2 separate regions of the Homo sapiens genome follow, and region 1 is linked to region 2. The links come from fine-mapping of genetic effects on gene expression. A gene starts in region 2. The other region holds a variant in brackets. All regions are shown on one strand. Distances are from middle to middle.

Region 1 (4,324 bases), 42 kb before region 2:
GTTTTGTAGTTGACTGCAGTGTGATGTGACCTTACCTTTATAAGAGCCACTTGATGGAGTAGATCTGTCACATTACTAAGATACGATATTTCTTTTTTTTTCCGAGACGGAGTCTTGCTCTGCCACTGTGCCCGGCCAATACATTATTATTAACTTAAGGCTGTACTTTATTAAGGCTTCCTTAGTTTTTGTTTTGTTTTGTTTTTTGAGATGGAGTCTCACTCTGTCGCCCAGGCTGGAATGCAGTGGCATGATCTCAGCTCACTGCAACCTCTGCCTCCTGAGTTCAAATGATTCTCCTGCCTCAGCCTCCCGAGTAGCTGGGATTACAGGCACCTGCCACCACGCCCAGCTAATTTTTGTATTTTTAGTAAAGACGGGGGATTTCACCATGTTGGCCAGGCTGGTCTTGAACTCCTGACCTCATGATCCACCCACCTTAGCCTCCCAAAGTGCTGGGATTAGGTGTGAGCCACCGCACCTGGCCGATATTTTCTTTAATGAAATTTATAAATATGCTTCTTGAATAATACACATTTTGGGAAAGGGAAAAATGTCTGTTCAAAAAGTAAAAGTCTCTTTTATAGCTTTTCCAAACTTAATTGCTAAATTTTTCTTTGAGGTTCTCCTGAATTATGTCTTACAAACTAAAAGCAAAAATTTTTAGCAGAAATTTTGGAATACATTCTATCTAGCACAATTTGAATTTTTAATTATCAAGATTTTTGTTAAAGTTTCTCTCCTTTAAAAATTTTAGTACATTTGTAAATAGTCCATGGTTCTCAGTGTTTTATTTTGATTAAGTGACTACCCAACTTTTGGTGATATGCAGTGAAAGAATCCCAATTTTCTATGTTACATTTAATCAAATACTGACATAATGAATTTATCTTTCCTGACACATTTTCATTCATTGGCTTTTTAATTTCTTATTTTATTAACAAAATATATCAGATATATTACCAAAACACATGGAGTTCCATACATAATATGGAATTTGATGTCTTTTCAAGTTGCACAAAGAATTTGAGCATATATAATTTTACCAAAGCATAATGGACCTTAGATTATAGAATACAGCATTGTTAGGTCTGCAGTGGGCAGTTTCTTTTTGTTTTGCTTTGTCAAAAATGGGAAATTGTTAACTGTGATGAAATGTGAGAATTACATAGATTATGTTATTTTTTAGTTGTTTTCCAAATGCAGAGTTTAAGGACTTTCTAACATGGCTAGTATTACTTCCAAAAAGTATAACAAGCAGCAGTCACACATGACCTAGGAGGGTTTTTTATTGTTTTATTTTATTATGCATTCCATAACAGTTTTAAAATGGGATTTTGAGAATGGACTTAACTTTCCTGGAATCCAATGCTCCTGGAGATTTATGACTTTCCCAGCCATCAGCCAGCTATCTAGAGAAGATTTTTGTTTTTCTTTTGCAACAGTTTCTTCAGTCAACTCATTCACTTTCAAATAGGAGCAGCACTTTGAAATCCTTTTTCTTCACTGTGGATTAAAAACATCCAAGAAGCCATCTCTGTCAAGCAGAATTGTCATCTGTGGTAATAAGTGACCATGTCCTAAATACCTTTTTCTTAGTGAGGAGTTGGTCATTGTCTTTGGCATCTGCAACCCCTGTTCAGGCATGTGACCTGCTAAAGAAATACAGCCTACACTA[C/T]CTTGACTACTGGGGAAAATGATACTTCGTAAAATGTAATAAGGCAACCTGTTCCTTGGCCTTTATCTTATGTTTTCCAACTATTACTGTATCTGTTATTGGTCTACTATTACAGGATGATTCTTCTTCCTCCATTGATCTCAACTAAATATGAATTAGGGTCATGCATGAAATCTGAACTGCCGTGTCCTGAGTTATGGTTAAGAGGTATGTGCTGCCACCCCATGCATGTCTTCCCCATCCCCATAGGATTTTAAAGTGTTCAGGTACCAAACACAGTTCTGTGTGAGGTTTTATGCCTACTTCCTCAACACCAATTCAGAGGCAACACCTGTGCATCTGTCCCACCAAAGGTGCTTTAATACCTACCTTCACTATTTGAGAAAGGACACTCACAGTTGCCTGTGGGTTATGAAAGAATTGGCCCTACGTCCTGCATGTAAGATGTTACAGGGGACATTGGGCCAGGCATTATTATATAGAGAAGTCTTATTTGCCAAGCTCTGACTAACTTCTGGATATGAAAATAAGGAACTTGCCCAGCATAGGCCTATAGGCAGCAGCCTTACTAGTAAATCTTGCCACAGAATCACTTGAAGCTAGACAGAGAAAGAAGTTCAATTTAAATATTTGTCCCATTGTTTGTGATTAGGATGTAAGCTTTGTGGAATGTAATTAACCCTGCTTTACGAAGTCACCATATTATAATAGGAAAAACACTGCCTAGGAGGCAAGAGATCTGAATTCCAGTTCTGATGCTGCCACTGTGTAAGGAAGTAGTTTTATAACCCATGGGCAAATCATCTGAGCTTTCTCATCTGTAAAGTTAGGGAGAGGAATTAATTAGTTGATCTGTAAAATAATCAGCTTCAAAACGTTATGGCTAAATCTGTAGAATGTATGCCCAATTGCTAAACGGATGTTGTGCCCAGAATTTTATCTAGTGACTACCTCAACATACAGGCCAAGCGTTACCTACACCAACACCCAAGCCATTAATTTGAGGTGCCATGAGAATAGGTGAACCACAGCCTAACACCATTTAGGTTTTTGTGTTTTTTTCAGGCTTGCCTCTACTTAAATATATTTAGATGAGAGAGTTCTCTTAGACTTCTTTCTTTGTAAGGAAGGGTTATTTGGGGAAGTGTTGGAAAAAAGATTAGGGCAGGGTACCCTTAGTTTATATAGGGTACAAAAGAATGGGAAACATCTTCCCTTTCTTCTTTAATCTCTGAAGTCATGTTTGGAATTACATATAATGTAGCAGGTACTGGAGAGGACCTGAATTTCAAGCTTCTGATTTAGCTGTTTGTAAACTTCCAAGTTTTGCTTGACTAAAGAATGCTGATCTTTTTTGGGAGTCTGATCTCCTTCTAATATCAGAAAGTGCTTTTTATATTCCAGATTGCTTGAATTAAACTGTTTGGATTAAAGAACATATATGGAGTTTCCTCTCTGGTTTTAAATAATCTTTCTTTATTCAGTAGCTATTAATAATTTATCTCATATTCAGCGAATATTTATTGAGAATATTGTTGAGAATCTCTTACATGCCAGGCACTATACTAAGTTAATATGCATTCAGTATACCAGTTGGTGTGACCCAGACCAAAGGTAACACAAAGATGAATGAGAATTCCTTCAAGGCGCCGATAATCCTAGTAGGAGAGCTAAGACACAAAACTGTTGCATGTTTTTAATCATCAAATTAAACTTCTTTCCACGTCCTTATCTTCTTTGGCATCCTTTTGCAAGATTTTTTTTAACTACCAGGCTTAAAATAATGAGGTCCCAGAGCACTTACTGGCTTCGAGTACACTTTATTTAAGCAGTTACTAGTTTAAAAGCACCTGTAATAACACTGAGATCATCATCATCAAATTGCCACCCAACAAGCCTAGCTTCTTGCAGAAAAGTTAACTTGGATAACACTTGGCTAAGTTTTCTGACTAATGCTGGATCAGGTAGAAATTCTTTAGTACTAAAGTCAAAAAACACTAATTGCTTAAGATTCTCAAATACACCCATGAAGGCAAGCCATCCATCACTGCTCACACGATTTCCCGCCAAATTCAACTGCTGGAAGTTTTTCAGAGGGTTCTTTCCAAAAAATGCACCTGGGTAAAGAAATAAGTATATTAGTTGGAAGAAAAATTTTTTTTAAAAAAAAAGAGAAATAGGTTCTACATTTATTTTACATACTTTTTTTTCACTCTGAAATGGCCATGTTTGAACCAGTGCTTTGCCTCAGAAAGAAATTATTAATATAATTCTCTATAGCTAGGGCAGTGATTGTGAATATGGTCTATTATATTTTCCTAGAGTATAAGGGAATCTGATAAATAGTGATTCGTAGTGAGGTAGCAACAATATGTAAATGAATTACTTTTTTTTCCCCTTTTCCTTACTCCTAGGAAATGGAAGGTTGCTTTAATTAAATATTCAGTACTTGTTTTCAAAACTGGAGTCAATCTTTGGCAATATTAAGTCGTTTCCTCTTCTGAAAAAGTAAACACCACCTAACTGTTGTTTCTATGGGTATGTTCCTAACTGTAAACTTGAGTAAGTGAGCCTCCTTCAGTATCTAAAGATTTGGGTGTTTTTGTTTACCTGTTTATGTATAACCCTCCCGAGCCTCTTCAGGAA
Region 2 (4,399 bases):
TGACAGAGAGAGACTCTGTCTCAGACAAAAAAAAAAAAGAATAGGACTGAGACCAGTGTACTCTCTTGGAATGTAGCTATGGCCCTGCAACCCCTCCCCGCAAGCTGTCCAGTGAATAACTGAATTGGGTGGAAGAAGTCCTTCCCCCACATTTGTACATTGGAAAATAATATAATAATATATATTATATATATATAGGCAATCTGCCTGCCTCGGCCTCCCAAAGTGCTGGGATTACAGGCATAAGCCACCATGCCCAGCTGGAAAATAATATTTAGTACTAATTCTAAAATTGGCATTTTCTTAAAAAAGGTTACATGAGCTCCTCAGAGAACTGAAGTTTCTCTGGACCCATATAACCCACGTCTATGGGGTCATTCCCACACCTCACAGATAAAATAAGGGAAAGAGTACATATAATTAGGAGCAGACAGGAAGCACACAGAAATGGAAAATGTGTGTGGGCTTTGGCATTGCAGATCTGAATTCAAATCCTCACTCTGCACCTTATGAGGTAAGTATCCCTAGACATGTTACTTAGCCTTTCCGAATCTTGCTTTCCAAATCATGCATAATATTCACCTCCCTGGACTATTGTGAAGATTAAACATGAAAGTAGTTGTGACAAAGATGGTCAGTGGGTATTATCTGTCTTCCTTTCTAGTAAAAAGGCTCTAGACTAGAATGTTCTTAGGTCTTTAATAGGCTTCAGCAATCTCACATGTTAATATTAGTGTTATGTGCTGAACTGGGCTTCCCCCAAATCCATATGTTGAAGCCCTGAACCTCAGAATGTGACTGTATTTGCAGACAGAGCCTTTAAAGAGGTCATTAAGCTCAAATGAGGCTGTTATGAGAAGAGGAAATCGGGACACACAAAGGGAGATACCAGGAATGTGCATACAGAGAGAAAAGGCCAAGGAGGGAGGCGTGGGGAGAAGCCAACCCTGCTGACACCTTGGTCTTGGACTTGCAGCCTCCAGAACTGTGGGAATATAAATTTCTGTTGTTTAAGCCACCCAGTCTATGGTATTTTAAACACATTAATACGACTAATATTATAAAAGTGTGTGAACAGTTAAGAAGTGTGCTGACCAGGTTCTATCCTAGTTTTGTAGACAATTAGCAGTGTGATGTAGGGCAGGACATTTAACTCCTCTCTACCACATTTTCCACCTCTCAAAGCCAGGCTGCAAGGATCTACTGAGATAATGTACATAAAGACCCTATCACGAAATAGGTGTCCCGTAAAGGGTGATTTCCTTCACTTCTGTCTCCAAATATCAGGTTTCTCATCAGTAACTTGGGAGATTGGATGGACTAAGTAGTCCACCTCGTTCCTTTCAGCTTTGATCATCTGTGATTCTAACAACAGTCTTAGCAACAAGAGTGAGTTTCCTGGCCGGGCACGTTGGCTCACACCTGTAATCCCAGCACTTTGGGAGGCTGAGGTGGGCAGATCACGAGGTCAGGAGTTGAGACCAGTCTGGCCAACATGGTGAAACCCTGTCTCTACTAAAAATACAAAAATTAGCTGGGGCGCGGTGCCGGGTGCCTGTAATCCCAGCTACTTGGGAGGCTGAGGCAGGAGAATTGCTTGAACCCAGGAGGCAGAGGTTGCAGTGAGCCGAGATCACGCCACTGCAGTCCAGCCTGGGTGACAGAGCAAGACTCTGTCTCAAAAAAAAAAAAAAAAAAAGAGTGAGTTTCCTTTCTGTAATGCCAAAAAGTGTTTCCAAAGTCCTTTCCATCTCACAGTAGTCCAAGGGGTACATGTACCCCTTGAACCTGATGAAGCCCCAGCAGACCCGATTAACCACCCCTAAAGGTTTCTCGGCAGGCAAATCCAGCCAGGCATGCAAATCACACTCGTCAATGTTAAGGCTTTTGTACATCCCAGACACAAGCTTTAAATGAATGTAAACCCAGATTTTAATATTTGGGCCCCAGACCTTAAAAATCCCATTCTCTCTACCCACAGTACCTGGCTGAGCAATCCAATTGCCCTCTTCTTGGGAGACCAAGACATGTTTTTAAAATAAAGTTTCTTTGTATTTGCTTTCCGTTTCAGTGAGGCCTCGAGTTCTTGTAGACCAGATACCTTCTTGTTCTGTGAGAGGACAGTGTACAGAGAGGGGAACTGCTGAGCAGTTCCTTTTTTTTTTTTCAAAGCACAGTAAGAGTGGTTTGGACACAAGTACTACCAGTTCAGAAAGGGAAGATGGGTGTAGGCAGGAGTAGCCGGGGAAGAAGTAGAACTTCAGAGTAAAAGATGCAAGAGCTAGAAATTCCGTCAAGAAAGGAATTACTCATTTGTTTCCTGTTTGTTCACAACATATGAATTCATTGCTGTTGAGTTACTTATTCTATACCTTAAAATGAAACAAAGTCTTCTGAACATCCAACATATATTTTTTTTCTTTTTCTTTCTTTTTTCTTTTTTTTGAGACAGAGTCTTGTTCTGTCACCCAAGCTGGAGGGCAGTGGCACAATCTCAGCTCACTGCAACCTCTGCCTCCCGGGTTCAAGCGTTCCTCCCGCCTCAGTCCTCCCAGTAGCTAAGACTACAGGCGTGCACCACCATGCCCGGCTAATTTTTGTATTTTTAGTAGAGACAGAATTTCACCATGTTGGCCAGGCTGGTCTCGAACTCCTGACCTCAGGCAATCTGCCAGCCTCAGCCTCCCAAAGTGCTGGGATTACAGGCGTGAGCCACCATGCCCAGCCACAACATGTATTTTTAATGCTTAACCATGGGAGATAGAGCGGTAAATGAAATGAGCCAGCTTAGTTGGCTAAAGCACATTGCTACTGCATTCAAGGTCATGCTTACCCCTGTACCTTGAATCCCAGAGGACTTCCAGCAGATGTGTTCTCTCAGTCAGCAGGGTTCTGGGCAAGGTCACACAGGGCAAACAGATCACCAGTTTTGGTCCACTCCACCGATGACGCACGGGGACACCCTCCGGAGTATAAACAGCCAGGGGCTTGCACAGGCACACTCACATTGGACGTTTGTGTTCACAGACTCCAGGAGGCCAGCTTATACTCAGCTGAGGACTGAAGAAATCTCTCTGCACTTCCCTTGAGGATGACATTCTTGCATACTCTTTCCTCTGTCTTTGCATAAACTACCAGGAACATGTCTTTGTGTTACATAACTTCTTATTTCAAAAAGAGCATTCTGACAGTAGCCTATCTGCCATAGAGGGATACCAAAGTTTCCCGGCAAATAAATGTCTACATCCTGGGTTTTCTAAGGGGGCATCAGTGTCAGTGTTTCCCAACTTGTGAGGTGGGTTTCTCTGAAGTGAGATTGAGGGCTACACTATCAGCTAGATTTTTAAATTGTAATGAAACCTATATATAAACATATGTTCAAGAGAAAAAACTGCAAAGACAGCCACCAAAATAGTAATGATGCTTATTGCTGGGGAATACAATTATAAGCAATTTTAAATTTCTGTCTTTGGCTTATCTGTATATTCTAATTTTATTTATCAACTTATTTATTTTTTATTTTATTTGTTTATTTATTTATTTATTTATTTATTTGAGACAGAGTCTCGTTCTGTTGCCCAGGCTGGAGTGGAGTGCAGTGGCTCAATCTTGGCTCACTGCAACCTCTGCCTCCCAGGCTCAAGCAATTCTTGTGCCTCAGCCTCTCAAGTAGCTGGGATTTCAGGTGTGGGCCACCACCATGGCTAATTTTTTGTATTTTTAGTAGAGACAGGGTTTTGCTATGTTGGCCAAGCTGGTCTTGAGCTCTTGGTCTCCAGTGATCCACCTGTGTTGTCCTCCTAAAGTAATGGGATTACAGGCGGGAGCCACCATGCCCAACCTGTATATTCTAATTCTTCATAGCAAACACCTATTACTTTTGTACTAATAAATGATGTAATATAGAATAAAAAGGGAAAATGTAGAAATATGGTTGTAGTAGGCTGAATAGTGGCTACCCAAATATCCCAAATCCTAATCCCTGGGAACTGTAAATATTGTGTCTTTCCAGATATGTTCCATTTAAGGCTCTGAAGATGGGGAGAGAATTCTGGATGATCCAGGTGGGCCCTTAATAATGGTCCCTTATTACAGAGAGCCAGAGGGAGATTTGAAACTGACAGGAGAAGTCAGTAAGACCATGAATGCAGAGATTCGAGTAATACGGCTACGAGCCAAAAGATGCCAGCAGCCACCTGCAGCTGGAAGAGGCATAAATGGATTCTCCCCTAAAGCTCCCAGGAGTGTGGCCCTGCTGACACCCTGATTTCAGCCCCATGATACTGATGTTGGACTGGTCCTCAGAACTGTGAAAGAATAAATTTCTGTTGTTTTAAACCACCCAGTTTATGATATTTTGTTACAGCAACCACAGTAGACTAATACAGTAGTATTTCAT

Which allele goes with the higher level. Alleles are on the strand shown, and positions count from the first base shown. SD is a standard deviation of normalised expression in the study named.
With allele T in place of C in region 1, the expression in fibroblasts of the gene that starts at base 2,133 in region 2 is higher (small effect, 0.25 SD a copy in GTEx).

What was found. PIP is the estimated chance that this variant, and not a neighbour inherited with it, causes the effect.
Region 1: its variant is the best candidate, but not a certain one, in a credible set for the expression of NLRC4 in fibroblasts (GTEx, PIP 0.72).

What each region holds. Positions count from the first base shown.
Region 1 is chr2:32,220,971-32,225,294 of GRCh38, forward strand. It overlaps SLC30A6 (solute carrier family 30 member 6), which reads left to right. Exons shown (of 14, transcript NM_017964.5): 14 at 1-3,409. NLRC4 (NLR family CARD domain containing 4) reads right to left here. Exons shown (of 9, transcript NM_001199138.2): 9 at 3,483-3,795. The coding sequence ends at 3,503. Among named protein-coding and RNA genes, the nearest start is that of NLRC4, 42 kb to the right of the region's middle. The variant C/T (reference allele first, on the strand shown) is at 1,679.
Region 2 is chr2:32,262,754-32,267,152 of GRCh38, forward strand. It overlaps NLRC4 (NLR family CARD domain containing 4), which reads right to left and starts at 2,133. Exons shown (of 9, transcript NM_001199138.2): 1 at 1,985-2,133.